2 separate regions of the Homo sapiens genome follow, and region 2 is linked to region 1. A link means that fine-mapping ties the variant in region 1 to the expression of a gene that starts in the linked region. Tissue or cell type: whole blood. Region 1 holds a variant in brackets; the other region holds the start of a gene. All regions are shown on one strand. Distances are between the middles of the regions.

The links. PIP is the estimated chance that this variant, and not a neighbour inherited with it, causes the effect.
Region 2: it holds the start of EHBP1L1, and the variant in region 1 is fine-mapped to the expression of EHBP1L1 in whole blood (TOPMed, PIP 0.91).

What each region holds. Positions count from the first base shown.
Region 1 is chr11:65,480,804-65,488,803 of GRCh38, forward strand. It overlaps LINC02736 (long intergenic non-protein coding RNA 2736), which reads right to left and starts at 7,283. Exons shown (of 3, transcript NR_187301.1): 1 at 7,087-7,283; 2 at 6,723-6,817; 3 at 6,105-6,631. RefSeq lists enhancers at 691-1,285, 6,430-8,000, 6,431-7,102, 6,755-7,049, 7,103-7,774. The variant C/A (reference allele first, on the strand shown) is at 3,131.
Region 2 is chr11:65,572,225-65,580,224 of GRCh38, forward strand. EHBP1L1 (EH domain binding protein 1 like 1) reads left to right here and starts at 3,829. Exons shown (of 19, transcript NM_001099409.3): 1 at 3,829-4,182; 2 at 6,854-6,911; 3 at 7,117-7,212; 4 at 7,712-7,765; 5 at 7,857-8,000. The coding sequence starts at 4,079. FAM89B (family with sequence similarity 89 member B) reads left to right here and starts at 314. Exons shown (of 2, transcript NM_001098785.2): 1 at 314-736; 2 at 1,139-1,966. The coding sequence starts at 446. The coding sequence ends at 1,417. It overlaps LOC124902692 (a long non-coding RNA gene), which reads right to left. Exons shown (of 2, transcript XR_007062731.1): 2 at 7,732-8,000. RefSeq lists silencers at 185-634, 1,914-2,433, 3,454-3,873, 3,884-3,943, 4,004-4,103 and 1 more and an enhancer at 2,804-2,943.

The DNA.
Region 1 (8,000 bases):
AAGCAGAGATGGCCAGGCACGGTGGCTCACACCTGTAATCCCAGCACTTTGGGAGACCGAAGTGGGCGGATCCTGACTTGAGGTCAGGAGTTCAAGAACAGCCTGGCCAACATGGCAAAATCCCATCTCTACTAAAAATACAAAAATTAGCCAGGCGAGGTGGCGTGCATCTGTAATCCCAGCTACTTGGGAGGCTGAGGCAGGAGAATCGCTTAAACCCAGGAGGCGGAGGTTGCAGTGAGCCGAGATCGTGCCACTGCACTCCAGCCTGGGCAACAGTGTGAGACTCTGTCTCAAAAAATAATAATAATAAAAATAAAAATAAGCCGGGCGTGGTGGCTCACACCTGTAATCCCAGCACTTTGGGAGGCTGAGGCAGGTGGATCACAAGGTCAGGAGATTGAGACTATCCTGGCTAACACGGTGAAACCCCGTCTCTATTAAAAATACAAAAAATTAGCCGGGCGTGGTGGCCGGTGCCTGTAGTCCCAGCTACTTGGGAGGCTGAGGCAGGAGAATAGCATGAACCCGGGAGGCGGAGCTTGCAGTGAGCTGAGATTGCGCCACCGCACTCCAGCCTGGGCGACAGAGCAAGATTCCGTCTCAAAAATAAATAAATAAATAAATATGAAATAAAATAAGAATCAAGCAGAGAAAATTCATGCATACCTAAAAGATAAGACCAAGGAAAAAGGCCAGAGTCCTGTACGACTGCCAGAGTTGTGCCTCAGTTATTGCTTTGAGCTTCTGTGAGCCAAAGAGAAAGGAAGAGGAACAAAGGTAGTTGCATGATTCTTCTTGCCTCTAGGGAAAAAGCATCCCAGTTCCTCAGAGAAAGGAAATTTTTTGCTGGCAGTTAATATCTAAGGAATTTCTCATACAGGTCTCCATATAGGGATGTGGTGGCTGATGAGAACAGACTGCAGCTTTCCTAACTAAGGGCATTGTTCACTGAGCATCCAAATCAGCAGCATCAGCAGAGAGTGGGATGCCAAGGAATGACTCAGCAAGGGCAGCTCTGCAAGGCTACAGAAGAGCTTTGTGGGGGCTCTGGCCAGACCCAGGGGCGATGGCTAAAACCAAAGAGGAATGGATGTACTGAATTCCCATCAGAGAAGTGTGGCTCCCGGCTTTCTGGTTTACATTTTTTTTAATCGAATGACTTCAACATCATCTATAAAATATTCTTTTTTAAAAAAAAAAAAAGCCTGTAATCCCAGCACTTTGGGAGGCTGAGGCAGGTGGATCACCTGAGGTCAGGAGTTCCAGACCAGCCTGACGAACATGGAGAAAACCTGTCTCTACTAAAAATACAAAACTTAGCTGGGTGTGGTGGTGCATGCCTGTAATCCCAGCTACTTGGGAGGCTGAGGCAGGAGAATTGCTTGAACCCAGGAGGTGGAGGTTGTGGTGAGCTGAGATTGCACCATGGCACCCCAGCCTGGGCAACAAGAGCGAAACTCCATCTCAAAAAAAAAAAAAAAGAAAAAGAAAAAGAAAAAGCAGCCTGGGCAACATTGTAAAACCCCATTTCTACACAAAATACAAAAAAAAATTGCCAGGCTTGGTGGTGGCGTGCGCCTGTAGTCCCAACTATTTGAGAGGCTGTGGTAAGTGGGAGGATCACTTCACCCTGGAAGGCTGAGGCTGCAGTGAGCCATGATTGTGCTACTACCCTCCAGCCTGAGTGACAGACCAAGACCCTGTCTCAAAAAAAAAAAAGAAAGGGGAACCCAGGTTGGATCAAGCCTCTAGATCTAATCACTTGTTTATAGGAAATGCAGAGGGAACAGAAGACTATGTCATACCACACCACAGGGATATGATGGGCAAAATCCAGAATGTGGAAAATTCCAAAGGCAAACCACCCAGATTCTTCAGCAAATAAATTTCAGGGGGAAAAAAGGTGGGGAGAGGAAACCTATAGAGTATGCTAGAATCTTAAGAGACATGGAAATCCAAGGAAATGTGCAGATTCCACTTAGGTCCTGATTGAACAAACCAACTCTCAAAAAATATTGAGGCAAACTGTGTATTTGAAGATTAATACTAAAAAAAAGTTTTCTGTTTGTTTTGTTTTGTTTTCAGGCAGTCCTTGAACCAGAATAGGTTCAGAGAGGCTCCCCGGTTAATTTTTTTAGGTGTGAAAATGCTAATAGGATTTTGATTATATAAAAATTGTTTTGCAAATTGAAAAAATAATAAAAATAGGCCGGCCGCAGTGGCTGACGCCTGTAATCCCGGCACTTTGGGAGGCCAAGGCGGGTGGATCACGAGGTCAGGAGATCGAGACCATCCTGGCTAACACGTTGAAACCCCAGTCTCTACTAAAAAAAAAAAAAAAAGAAAAAATAATTAGCCGGGCGTGATGGCGGGCGCCTGTAGTCCCAGCTACTCGTGAGGCTGGGACAGGAGAATGGCGTGAACACGGGAGGCGGAGCTTGCAGTGAGCCGAGATCATGCCACTGCACTCCAGCCTGGAGGACAGAGCGAGACTCCTTCTCAAAAAAAGAAAAAAAAGAAAATAAAAATAGTTATGGTTTGTTTCAAAATACTCCAGGTAATGGGGGTTACAAAGAAAGAAGAAACACTTTCTTCCACCCTCTTACTGCCTGGCCTGAGAGCTTACATATCATTTTCAAGATAGCAGTACATCGTGAAGATGTGACAAGGCAAAGGGAAAACGGTTTTAAGCTTCTGGGGGCTACAAAACCGTGGGATGGTAAATATATGGGGAAAACTAGTGGAAGATCACTCTGAATTTAGTAAGATTTGTTTGTGCAGTTTCATCTCAGTGCCGACTGTCCTTTTTTTTTTTTTTTTTTTTTTTTTTTTTGAGACGGAGTCTTGCTCTCTCGCCCAGGCTGGAGTGCAGTGGCATGATCTCGGCTCACTGCAAGCTCCGCCTCCTGGGTTCACACCATTCTCCTGCCTCAGCCTCCCGAGTAGCTGGGACTACAGGCACCCGCCACCACACCCGGCTAATTGTGTGTGTGTGTGTGTGTGTGTGTGTGTGTGTGTGTGTGTGTGTGTAGTAGAAACGGGGTTTCACTGTGTTAGCCAAGACGGTCTTGATCTCCTGGCCTCGTGATCCGCGCGCCTCGGCCTCCCAAAGTGCTGGGACTACAGG[C/A]GTGAGCCACAGTGCCTGGCCTGACTTTCTGTCTTCATGACCATAAACCTTCCTGGAAGAGGATATTTATGGCAGTCCTCATTTCTAGGAGTTTTTGCTTGTAGTCAGATAAGGAAAGTTCCAGAAAGGCTCTCTCTGCATCTGTCCGATCTCAAATGCCTCAGTTCAGAATTATCCTTATACCAAAGTAGCATTTGGTGGGGCTGAGATATTCTGATCCCCTTCAAGGGATTGGGAGTTTAGATGGAAGGGAAGTGGCAGGAGTTAGTAACTGTTGGAGCTGGGTATGAATAACATGGGGATTCATTAAACTATTCTTTTTTTCTCTCTCTCTTTTTGAGACAGAGTTTTGCTCTTGTTGCCCAGGCTGGAGTGCAGTGGCACTATCTCGGCTCACCACAACCTCCGCCTCCCGGGTTCAAGCGATTCTCCTACCTCAGCCTCCTGAGTAGCTGGGATTGCAAGCATGCGCCACCATGCCAGGCTAATTTAGTATTTTTAGTAGAGATGGGGTTTCTCCATGTTGGTCAGGCTGGTCTCGAACTCCCGACCTCAGGTGATCCACCCGCCTCAGCCTCCCAAAGTTCTGGGATTACAGGCGTGAGCCACCGCGCCTGGCCCTAAACTATTCTTTTTACTTTTTATTTTATTTTTTGAGAATTTTTTTGAGACGGAATCTTGCTCTGTCACCCAGGCTGGAGTGCAGTGGCGTGATCTTGGCTCACTGCAAACTCCGACTCCTGGGTTCAAGTGAGTCTCCTGCCTCAGCCTCCCAAGTAGCTGGGATTACAGGCATGCACCACTAGGCCTGGCTGATTTTTGCATTTTTAGTAGAGATGGGGTTTCACCATGTTGACCAGGTTAGCTCGAACTTCTGACCTCGTGATTCGACTGCCTCATCCTCCCAAAGTGCTGGGATTACAGATGTGAGCCACCACGCCTGGCCTTTACTTTTTTATGTTTGAAATTTTCCATAACAAAACATCTTTAAGTATTGGAAATACTGACAAACGGTGAGCCAACTTTTCCCAAATACAAAATTATAACAAAATTACCCTGCACTGTCACCACCGTTTCATAAGAAAAAAGTCTTTATAACATCAAAGATACAAGAAGGGCTTGTGAACCCAAAATATCTGAGACAGGTCTCAACCAATTTAGAAGGTTTATTTTGCCAGCCGGGCACGGTGGCTAACACCTGTAATCCCAGCACTTTGAGAGGCTGAGGAGGGTGGATCTTGAGGTCAGGAGTTTGAGACCAGCCTGCCCAACATAGTGAAACCCTGTCTCTACTAAAAATACAAAAAATTAGCTGGGCATGATGGCGGGCGCCTGTAATCCCAGCTACTTGGGAGACTGAGGCAGGAGAATTGCTTGAACCTGTGAGGTGGAGGTTGCAGTGAGGCGGGATCGTGCCACTGCACTCTAGCCCGGGCGACAGTGCAAGACTCCGTCTCAAAAAACAAAAAAAAAGAGAAAGTTTATTTTGCCAAGGTTAAGGACACACCCATGACACAGCCTCGGGAGGTAGATAAGAGACAAAGAGTTGCACTCTTTTCTTTTGAGTTTCTGATTAGCCTTTCACCTAATACGCAATTTACATTTGAGAGGAGGGCAGAGGAGTAGTCACTTTTGCTTTAGTCTGGTTTAGTGAAATCAGAGGTCAGGGGAAGCAATCCGATATGCATTAGTCTCACGTGAGCCTCGGAGGGATGATTTTGAGTTCTGTCTGTCCTTTGTCCACAAGGAATTTCCTTGTGGGCAAATTGTGAGGGAGGCATGTAGCTTTTTTTTTAATAAATCTTTGTAGCTATCTTATTTAGGGATAAAATTGGAAGCAGGTTTGCCTGACATAGTTCCCAGCTTGACTTTTCCCTTGGCTTAGTGATTTTGGGATTCCAAGATTTATTTTCCTTTCACAGGCTTAATCTCTGAATAAAGGACCCTCTTAAAATGGGATGTAGTTAGTTTTCTGGAAAAGTCACAGCCGACGCTCCCAGGGACTGTTTCTGGTTCACGGGCCCTAGGTTCAAACAACCCTTCCCAAACCTTGTTTGTTTCAAAGGTTGAGATCAAAGCTAGTGGGTAGCCAGTGAGGCTGTGCTTGTTCACTCTGTGACTCGGACAAGCTGGCACCTGTCTTCTCTGGGCTGCTTTCTCTCAAAGACTAAGAGTGTTTAGTGCAGAAAGGCCCTCAGAGATCTGGGTTAACCTCTTATTTATTTATTTTTATTTTTTGTTTTGTTTTGTTGTTTTTGAGATGGAGTCTCACTCTGTCGCCCAGGCTGGAGTGCAATGGCACGATCTTGGCTCACTGCAACCTCTGCCTCCCGGGTTCAAGCGATTCTCCTGCCTCAGCCTCCCAAGTAGCTGGGATTACAGGCGTATGTCACCAAACCCAGCTAATTTTTGTGTTTTGAGTAGAGACAGGGTTTCGCCATGTTGGCCAGGCTGGTCTCGAACTCCTGACCTCAGATGATCTGCCCACCTCGGCCTCCCAAAGTGTTGGGATTACAGGCGTGAGCTACCATGCCCAGCCGGTTAACTTCTTATTTTTACAGATGAGAGAACTGAGACAAAGAGAGGAAGAGTGACTTGCTGGAGGTAACAGGGTGCCACTTAAATGGCACAGCCTAGGGTAGAACCCAGGGCTGCTGGTGCCTCGTCCAGGGTTTGCTCCACTCAACGTTTTACCTGCTATGAACTGACCCATGTTGTTTTCGTCATTCTAGTCAGTACCTAGAAAGACAGCTGTGTGGACTAGCTGCTGGACCACCAGGCTTTAAGTCTTGACATTGCTATTTACTGGCTGTGCAACCTTGAGCAAGTTTACTTAACTTCTCTGGGCCTCCATTTCCTCATCTGTAAAATGGGTAGGTGCTGTAATCATGACAGTTATCTTCCGTGAAAATTCAGTGAATGCATGTGCCGCAGTGCCTGCCATGTAGAAAGGACTCAGTGCAGCATAGCTGCATTTTCACCTCCTATATGGATGGTAAGTTCCACAGATTTATTACGGAAAGCAGGCTGGCCTTTAACTTAGGGTCATGGAATGTCAGAGCTGGAAGGGGCCTCTTGAGTTAACTAGAGAGGCGTCCTTTTACAGGAGAAAATGAGTCCCTGGGGGCCTGCGTGACCTGCTGAAGGTCCCAGGGGCTTTTGGTGACAGAACAGGAATCAAACTCCAAAGGGGTCCTCTGTCCTGGGGCTCTGGGCTTGTTGAACAAGTCAGCTGCCCCATCCTCCAATTTATAGAGCCATTAGCCCAAGGGAGTGTCAGTGTTGGTCAAGTAAAGACACGTGGAAGTGCACGGAGCTCTACAGTTTACTAACAGCATTTGCAAAGTTGGAGCCTTACTCCAGCCTAGAAGGTGGTGAGTGCTGGAATGAATATTCCATTTCACAGAAAGAAACCAAGGCCCCCAGGGATGAGTTGGTAACCAAAGCCATGGGTAGAGGCACAGAAATTCCTTGACTACTCTGGAAAATGAGGGAGTTCACCTTCAAGAGAAGAAAGTTAGGTCAGTATAAAATGGCTGACAGCCTCTTCTGCCTTCAGAAAAGTACTTCAACTGCAAAGTCAACTACTAACTTCCAAGGAGGTCAGGAAGGAAAGCAGTTGCTATGGCAACATCTTTGGCAGCTATTTTCATCCTTCTCTGGTTCAGAACAGCTTCCAGCAGGTTCCTGTGGGAGGGATGGGGGAGAAAGGGAAAGGCTAGCTCCAGCCCAGCAACTGTCCTCAGCCAATCTCCCACCAGATTTCGGTGGCAAGAGGAAGGTGGCAGCCAATGAAGAGGCTCGGAGCTTGCATCATCCTCCTGACCAGGGTGGAATAACCAGGAGGCAGGCGCACGTGACCGTTTCCATGGTGACCTCCCTTAGCAACCCTGACTGGTCCTGTTTATGAACGCTGGAAAATTCCAACCAGCCTCTGTCCTGATTTTTTTACCTACTCTGCCTCCGCCTGCTCCAATGCAGGGGTGAAGTCACTGCCAACGTTTAACCCTTTCCCCACGTGGGCCTGGCTCCAGTCAGATCGAGGGTCTGGGAGGGCTGCAGGGATCTCTCAGTCGCCAATGGTTGCAGACAATCCAGTAAGCCACAGCTGTTACTTGCTGCACTGAACCCTGCCTGCGCTGAGTACCGAAAGCAGGAGGGAAGGTAGCCACATCTCTTGAGCCCGGCGCTGTCCTAAGCTCCTGACATCCCCACAGGCCTGAGAAAGGGGCACCACAAACAGGAACCAGGCTGAGACTGAGCCTGTGGACCCTGGTAGCAAGGGCGCCCTCTCTCTAAGAAGCCCTCTGTCATGCTACCGATGTTGCAGAACACCTGGGGCGGAGTAGGGAGTGCCAAAGCGCAGGGGATGAGTGCACAGCAGGGAGACTTCTATGGTCTGCAGGTGAGCTGAAGGCAGGCCCCTGAGGAGGTGGACATTTAGGCTGAATGGAGGACAGGGAGGTAGCAGGACCTGCTGTCTCCAGGACCCCTAAGTTTCTAGGCCAGAGCTGACGGCTGGTGGGTGCAGTCAGCCAGGCTCCAGGGAAGGCTGCTCCAGGCAGGGCTGAGTCTTCACGGTTCAGCTTTTAGAACTGGCCAGGTTGGAATTCTGGCTGGGGGCAGACAGGGAGGGCAAACCACAAACACTTCTGCCTGATCTGGCTGGGGAATCCACAGAGACCACCAGCTGGGACTGGGGTGAGCCTCTCAGAGCCCCTAGCACCAGCCCAAGGCTGCATGGGCTGACTGTGTGGGCGGATGCTGCCTAAGTCATGTGCAGAGCCGTCCTGAGCTGAGGCAGAACTATAAGACATGAACTCTGTTTTCAAGACAGGTGACAATGACAAACAGCAATAAAAGCCACACA
Region 2 (8,000 bases), 91 kb after region 1:
GGTGGCACGTTAGGCACCAAGTGTGGACTTGCCAGTCTCCTGACTCCACTGTTAGATCATTTTCCTTGGGTGTGGGGGCGGGGCGGGGCGCGGCGGGGAGACGGGGTAGCAAAAAGAACCGTGAAGAAACCACGCCTGCCCCCTTCAGCCTTTTCCCCCCTCCGCCGCATTTTTCCATCTCCCCTTGAGTGAGTGGATGTCCCGTTGCCTTTTCTCAGCTTTGCGCGACGTGGTCCCACAACCGTTGCCTTTTTAAGAGAGGCCCGGCCCATCCAGAGGGGGTGGGGCAGAGGCGGAGTCTGAGGAGCTGGGGAAGGAACAAAGCGAGGCCTGCGGGCGGCGGCTGGGCTCCGGCGGGGCCGCGGGGTGCGGGGCCTGCGGGCGGCGGCCCGGGCGGAGCGTTGGAGGGAAGGAGGTGGCATCGCCGTCCGCGCCGGCCCCGGCCATGAACGGGCTGCCCTCGGCAGAGGCGCCGGGCGGGGCGGGCTGCGCTTTGGCCGGGCTCCCACCGCTGCCGCGCGGCCTCAGCGGCCTCCTTAATGCGAGCGGGGGCTCGTGGCGGGAGCTGGAGCGCGTCTACAGCCAGCGCAGCCGCATCCACGACGAGCTGAGCCGCGCCGCCCGCGCCCCGGACGGGCCCCGCCACGCCGCCGGCGCCGCCAACGCGGGACCCGCAGCCGGCCCGCGTCGTCCTGTCAACCTCGACTCAGCGCTGGCCGCGCTGCGCAAGGAGATGGTGAGTGGGTGGGCGCCGGGCCAGCTGGGCGGGGGGCTGACGCGGAGGAACGCAGGGGACTGGGACAGGCGGCCTGGGTCTCAGAGGACTTGCAGGCACCAGTTGGGTTGCAAGGGTTATGGTAACAATAATTAGTGATAGTTACCAATTATGGCAGTAGTTACCATATATTTTCAAATGTTTTGCTGACGTTACTTCATTTCATCCGGCTAAATGGATAACCCCATTTTTTGGGTGAGGGTCATGACTAAAGTTGCATAGCTTGCAGGTGGTGCCTGATGTCCACAAAAACTTCGTTTAGGAAGGTGCGGGGAAGATGGGCTGGGGCCCACTATTCCAGGGGGCGGGGCTGGGCTGGGGTGGCCTGGACCCCAACTCCAGCCCACCCTCAGTTGTCTGCAGGTGGGGCTGCGGCAGTTGGACATGTCCTTGTTGTGCCAGCTGTGGGGCCTGTACGAGTCAATCCAGGACTACAAACACCTGTGCCAAGACCTGAGCTTCTGCCAGGACCTGTCATCCTCCCTCCATTCGGACAGCTCCTACCCACCGGATGCGGGCCTGTCTGACGACGAGGAGCCTCCCGATGCCAGCCTGCCTCCTGACCCGCCACCCCTTACTGTGCCCCAGACGCACAATGCCCGTGACCAGTGGCTGCAGGATGCCTTCCACATCAGCCTCTGAAGGGCTGGGGGGCAGGGGGCATGCACCCATGCAAAAGGCTCAGAAACTCCCCCTCCGGCAAGCCCTCAGACTTCGGAGCCTGCGCCTTCCCCCCTACCGCCTCACCTCACAGGAGGGCCAGGCATGTATTCCTCAGAGGCGAAACTGCCAAACTCTTTCTCCTGTCTTGGGTTGGCTGGCACTGGGGCGGGCATCTAGGGTACAGCCTCTGCTCATGGCACTGGGCCTCCAGTTCTTCCACATGTGTGCACCCCCAGCTTGGCCAACCCTCAGCCTTGCGGTGGGGCCCGAAGCATCTTCCCTTCCGCTTGGCGTCTCTGGGATTGGGATGAGTGCCTGGCTCCCATCTCCTCCTCACCTTTTGTTGCTATCGGCAGCTGCTGGCTCAGGGGCATCCCACCTCCGGGCTCTGGGTTCCTCTGCCCTGGAAGGGCTCCAGGACCCGTCCCAATAACCACCCACGGCCAGGAGGGCCAAGGCCCCGTGCTGGATATTTAAATTTAGGGGCCGGTCTCCAGGGCGCGTAGATAAATAAATACACTCAGCGTCGTTGTGCTCTGCCTGGCTGGCTCTGGGGCGGGAAGACCGCGGTGTTTGTGGCAGGTGCGGCCCCGCGCTCTGCCAGCAGGTGGCGCCCGAGACCCCCTCCCCCCCCGCCCCGCGCCGAGTGAAGGCCCTGCCGTCCCGCCGGGGCGGGGCTGGGGGCGCTGCCTGCTGGCCGAGCCTGGCTCAGCCGCCGGGTGACTGCGGTCGAGTCACTTCCCCTCTCTCGCCCGCGACCTCCGAGTCCCCCGCTCCCTCCTCCCAGTTCGCTTCGGGCTTTCCCTGCCTGCCGGGAAGGAAGGAGAAGGAGCCGCCCACCTTGAGGAGGGAAACTTTCCACCCCGCGCGGGGCGGGGTTGAGGCGGCGCAGGAAATGGGTGGCCGGAGTCGCCGGAGCAAGGGGCCCCGGCGGGGGCGGGGGAGGCGCCTCCGGGAACGGCCTGGGACCTCACGCCCCGCGGGTGGGAGGGAGGGGTGGCAGAGGCCGAGGGGAGTGAAGTCGCGGCACCTCGGGCCTTCCCGGAGGCCAAGCATGAGACTCCGCGGCGGTGAAGTTTGATTGGGGTTCCAGGGACCCGTATTCCCCGCTCAGTCTGTGAAGACCGCCGGCTCTCCCCACAGCACTAGCGGTCTTTACAGTTATCTGTGGAAGGTTTCTTAGGAAACCGGGGACCCACACCGCTGGGACTGAGAACCAAACCCAGTTGTCAAGCCCACCGGAAGAAGCCAGCACGTTCGGAGACAGTGGGTACTCAGCCCCCTACACGCGCACACGACACCTCACAACCTCCTGAAAAGAGGTGAAGCCGCACACCGAGGTGTGCGGACGAACAGCACATCCCCGCGCCCTGCTGCAGCCATTTGCCTCCTGGAGATGCAGCCCAGATGGCAGTCCTGGCACTCAGACATCCCGTTAAACCAAGTAGCAGTCACGCACCGGGCTCCTGTCCATTTACACACCTTGCAGAGCAGCGGGAAGGAACAAACTGACCTATTGCCCCAGGGCAGCTGACACCTGCAGAGGCTCATTACCATGCAGGGCGGGTGGGTAGGCGATAAGGGCTCTAATCTAGGGGTTCACAGCTGCTAACGCTCCAGGCAGGCTTTCCTGGGGAGGGAGAGTAAACATACACAAAAATGACACGTTTTCCCCATCCATTATAGCGCATCCCATTTAATAAGGAGGCATGGCAAAATCAGCCAGGCTTTCTGCTAAATGCCTTCTGAGGTTCATCCTCTCAGGGATTCCCTAAAAGGCGGAACTACAATTATCCCCATTTAATAGACGTTGAAACTGAGGCTCAGAGTGTTAGCGCTTTGCCCAAAGTCACACTTGGTTGGAGGTCAGTTATGATTCTCCAGCTACTTGTCGGGGTTTGGGATTATCTTCCCCCTTGACAGCAGAGTCAGGTTCTGAGGTTGGGCCACCGAGGTTACTGACGCCTTCCTGCTCTGGTTAAGACGTGGGTGGCTGCACCTTGGAGTTGAGAGCTGGTCCTCGTCCACATTCACAGTATGACTCTGAGCAAGTCCCTTCCCCTTTCTGGGTCTCAGTTTTCCCAGCCGTTGAAAGGGGGCCAGTAGTACGTACCTCCCAGGGCTGCGGGCAGGAAGGAAGGCGGCCCGGGCAGCGCTCTCTAGGGTGGCACCAAGTTGCTGGTTGCCCTCTCTCCACGCAGCCTCTGCGCGCACCGAGCGGGCACTGCGGTCGGGCGACACCCCTTCCACGCCCCCCTCCCCCGCCCCCGCTCCCGCTCCCGGGTCGCGGCGCGAGGCCCCGGAAGCCGGGTCGCCCCGCCCCCGCGCTCCTGCCCCGGCCCCCGCCCCGCGCCGGAGCCCCGCCCGCCTTCCGACGGGGGTGCGGCTCCAGGAAACGGCGCGCTCCCAGCTCCGCGCTCGCCACCCGACGCGCCCCAGGCGACCCCGCAGACTCAGCCAGACCACCCTGCGGGCCCCAGCGGCGGCAGCGGAGAGCGCGGTCCCGGGTCGGAGCCTGGGACACCTCCGCACGGACGGGGCGGGCGGCGCGGACAGGCCATGGGGACCCGGGCCGGGCCAGCGGTGGCGGGCCAGCGGGAGCCCCGGGCCTGAGAAGTGGGCGGCGGGGTGGCGGGGGCCATGACCTCGGTGTGGAAGCGCCTGCAGCGCGTGGGCAAGCGGGCGGCCAAGTTCCAGTTCGTGGCCTGTTACCACGAGCTAGTGTTGGAGTGCACCAAGAAATGGTGAGTGGGAGGGAGGCGGGGGGGCTCCCCCGAACTTGCTGGGACCTCATCCGGCCCTTTGAGCCTGAGAGGACTCTGCCCCCCCAGCCCAATGACCAAATGGGCCCCCACCCCAGCTTGGGCCCTGGTTCCGTTCCCAGGCTCGGAGATTCAGAAGTGCCCTTGCAATTTGTGGGACCCCTGGAGTTGGGGGCGTGGGCAGCCTTCCCTGCGCGGGGGTCAGGACTTTCAGGCCTGAGGTTCTGCCTGTGTCCACTCCTTCCTCAGCTGCGGTCAGGGCTGGGGGAGGGAGGCCGCATGTCTTGTGCCAGAAAGGTGGTTCAGGGTGGCATTGGAAAAGGGATCAAGTTTTGAGGTCTGCAGGTGGCTAGGGCTGGGGCAGGAGCCTCCCTGACCTTACTTAGTCCAGCTAAGAACAGAGATGTTGCCCCCTCCTCCCCTGCCATCTTGTTGAGCCAGAAGAACCCCTCCAACTCCCGCCTCTTCAGCCAGAGTGCTGGGAGGCTGGAAACATCTCCACAATGTCCTTAAAAGGGGAAACTGAGTGCTGGGAGGATTGAGGAGGGAGGCGGGGAGCAGCTTAAAGGGGCCTGAGGACCTAGGAGGTTGTGGGTCCGGGAGGAGAGGGTTGCGGAGGGCAAGGTGGCAGGGTGAGGGGTGATTCACCAGAGGGTGCAGGCCCCAGCCTGGACTACCAACAGGTTCAGGGGCATCTCGTTCACATGCCGCCACCCATAGCTGCCCAGGCCCCTGCGTCACACCCTAAATATACGTGCTTGCTGGTGTCAGCTTCCCTTGGCTGGATTAGGGCACAGCTGTGGGGGCCTCACCCGCCAGGCGGGGCTAAATTTAGGCTCCCCAGGGGAAGGGCTGGGGCAGGAAGGGACCATGGGGTCCAGGGGGAGGGGAGTAAGCAGGAGGCTGGGGTCCCTTGGGCAGCTGCCATATCCTTGGCCTTGCCCACACTGGGCCTGCTAGAGGGCCATTCACATCTTTCAGCAGAGCCTGGGAGAGCTTGGGGGCTGGCACTTGAACTCTGGCCTCTGGCTCCTGCTCCAGCATCCTGCGGGAGGCCAGGGAAACACTGGGCACAGCAGGCTGAGGGTGCCGGCAGTGTCAACGCAGCTGAGTCACAGGCGGCTGTGGGTAGGGCCTCCTGGGCTGCTTAGCCTGGAGCCCAGGCCGGGAAGCTGCCCCTGCCCAGGTTGCAGCTTCCCAGGAGGGCGTGCCCAGCCTGAGTCAGGCTGCCCAGCCAAGCCCTGCCCTCCCTAGGCACCCCCTGTCCGCTTCCCCTTTCTGGGAAGGCCCCTTAGTTACCCTTGCTCTGCCATCGCTGGCAATTTGGGCTTGGGGAAGGGAACTTGGCTCTGGGTTGGAGGGCTCTAGGCTCAACCGTGTAAACTTGTTTGGCTCCAAACCTCTGTGGGCCTCAGCATCCTCAGGGTTAACAGAGAGGCACTTATCCTGGCTTGGCCTCAGACGAACAGTGAGCTGGGCAAACCCCAGCATCACGAGAGGGTGCAGGCATGGGGCTGGGTACAGGCAAGGCCAGTTCGCGTGCTGCCCTGGGCCGGATCGTCCCCTCAAGCATCACCCCTCCTGGGCAGCAGTTGAACATCTAACCCCAAGGGGCCCTCTGCCCCCAGGCCCAGCCATGAGTCCACTCAGTGCCTGGGAATGGGCCCTGCGCAGCCATCTCTGTCCTCTGGCTTTGCCTCTGCCTCTCCTCCATGTCTGACCTGGCATATGCTGTTCAGCTTAGATGTCACCCCCTGGAAGTCTTTTCTGATTGCCCTCCAGGCTCCACTGTCATCATCTTGCCGAAAGCTGATCCTCCTTGGGACCCCTGCGCCCAGCAAAGGGCTGGACATGGTGGGCGAGGGATGGCGGTGTTGGTTAATGACAGGCTGACCCTCTGCTGCTTCTCCGGCCTCACCCCCAACTCTCTGCCCCTCTCTCTGATGTCACCCTCCAGCCGCAGACCCTTGGACTTGCCATTCCCTCTTTCTCCAGATCCTCACACAGCCCATCCCCCTGCCACTCATCTCTGCCCAGACACCCAACCTCAAGGAGACCCCCAGGGGTTCCCTCACATCACCCTGGAGTTCGCTTGTTAATTTATTTTCCTTCTTGACTGGTAGTCTGCCCCCACCTCCATTGTCCTCACCGGAAAGGTCTTGTCTCTCTTTTGCCCTCCTCTGTCCCCAAAACTGGGCTGGGTTTATGGTGGGCGCTCCACAAACATCTTTGTGCGAAGGGACTTCTTTTATCCCTCGTCTTTGTCTCTCCCTGTGTTGGAGTCTGCGTGTGTGCACGATGCTCACATGTGCATCTGTGTCTGGCATCTCTTGCCAGGTCCTTGTGTTTCTGTGTGTCTTGGTCTCTGTATGTGCCTGTCCCTTTCTCACTTGCTGTCTTTCCTCATAGTCCCTGCCTGCCCACACTGTCTGGGCCTTTGCCCTTCTGCTCTGGCCCCACCCTACCTTAGCAGCTCCACCCTGCACCCTGTGGCCCCAGATAAGGGGCTGCCCAGGCCCTCTTCTGGAGGAGGGGGAGGTGGGCAGAAGGAAGACCCTGAGGGAGCTGGGGGAGGAGGAAGAGGAGATGGGGAGGCAGGTGAGCCTGACCAAGCAGCCTGCTCCCTTTCTCCCTCCCCTTCCCCCTCCCCCAGGCAGCCAGATAAGCTGGTGGTGGTATGGACCCGTCGGAACCGACGCATCTGCTCCAAGGTGGGGAAGGATGGCAACTGGGGATCCAGGTTAGGGATGGGGGCCGGTGGGAGGCTGATGGGGGCTGATGGGGGAGTGGAGTGAGGTTCAAGCACAGATCAGAATCCACAGAGGGGAGGGGAAGATGGTGTCAAGGTTGGTGATAGGGGGTGCAGGTGGGAGGGAAGAGTTAAGATGGGGGGAGGACTCAGATTGTCCCTTGTAGGCCCACAGCTGGCAGCCGGGCATCCAGAACCCATACCGGGGCACCGTGGTGTGGATGGTACCTGAGAATGTGGACATCTCTGTGACCCTCTACAGGGTGAGTCTCTAGCCCTCCAGCATGGATGGCAATTGCAACACAGGCAGTTGCAACAATTGCAACACAGGTCTCCTGGTAGGTTGTTCATCCAGATAGAAGAGGATGCGGGGGGTGAGGCCAAGAATTAGGGGGGCCTGCTCAGCATCACTGGCCCAGGAGGTCTCCTTGGAGGAGGCAGCATTTACCCAACACATGCAGCATGAGAGGCAGCTGGGACCAGAACTTGGGGTGCATCCCAGGAGGAGGTAGCAACCACCGCGTGCACCTGTAATCCCAGCTACTTGGGAGGCTGAGGCACGAGAATTGCTTGAACCTGGGAGGCAGAGGTTGCAGTGAGCCGAGATCGCACCCCTGCACTCCAGCCTCGACGACAGAGGAAGACTCCGTCTCAAAAAAAAAAAAAAAGCCACCACTACCAAGCACCTCCTGAGCCAGACAAGCTCTGCTCCCTTTGCTGCTGCCCCAACAGTCCTGTACTCACCAGCACCCTTCTTCCCAGGACCCCCACGTGGACCAGTATGAGGCCAAAGAGTGGACATTTATTATTGAAAATGTGAGTGTCTGGAGTGGGCTCAGGTCTGGAATCTTGGGGACCCTGGGACAGCACTGATGCCCCTTCTCCTGGTCTCTCCCCTGGCCCACAGGAGTCTAAGGGGCAGCGGAAGGTGCTGGCCACGGCCGAGGTGGACCTGGCCCGCCATGCAGGGCCCGTGCCTGTCCAAGTCCCAGTGAGGCTGCGGCTGAAGCCAAAGTCAGTGAAGGTGGTGCAGGCTGAGCTGAGCCTCACT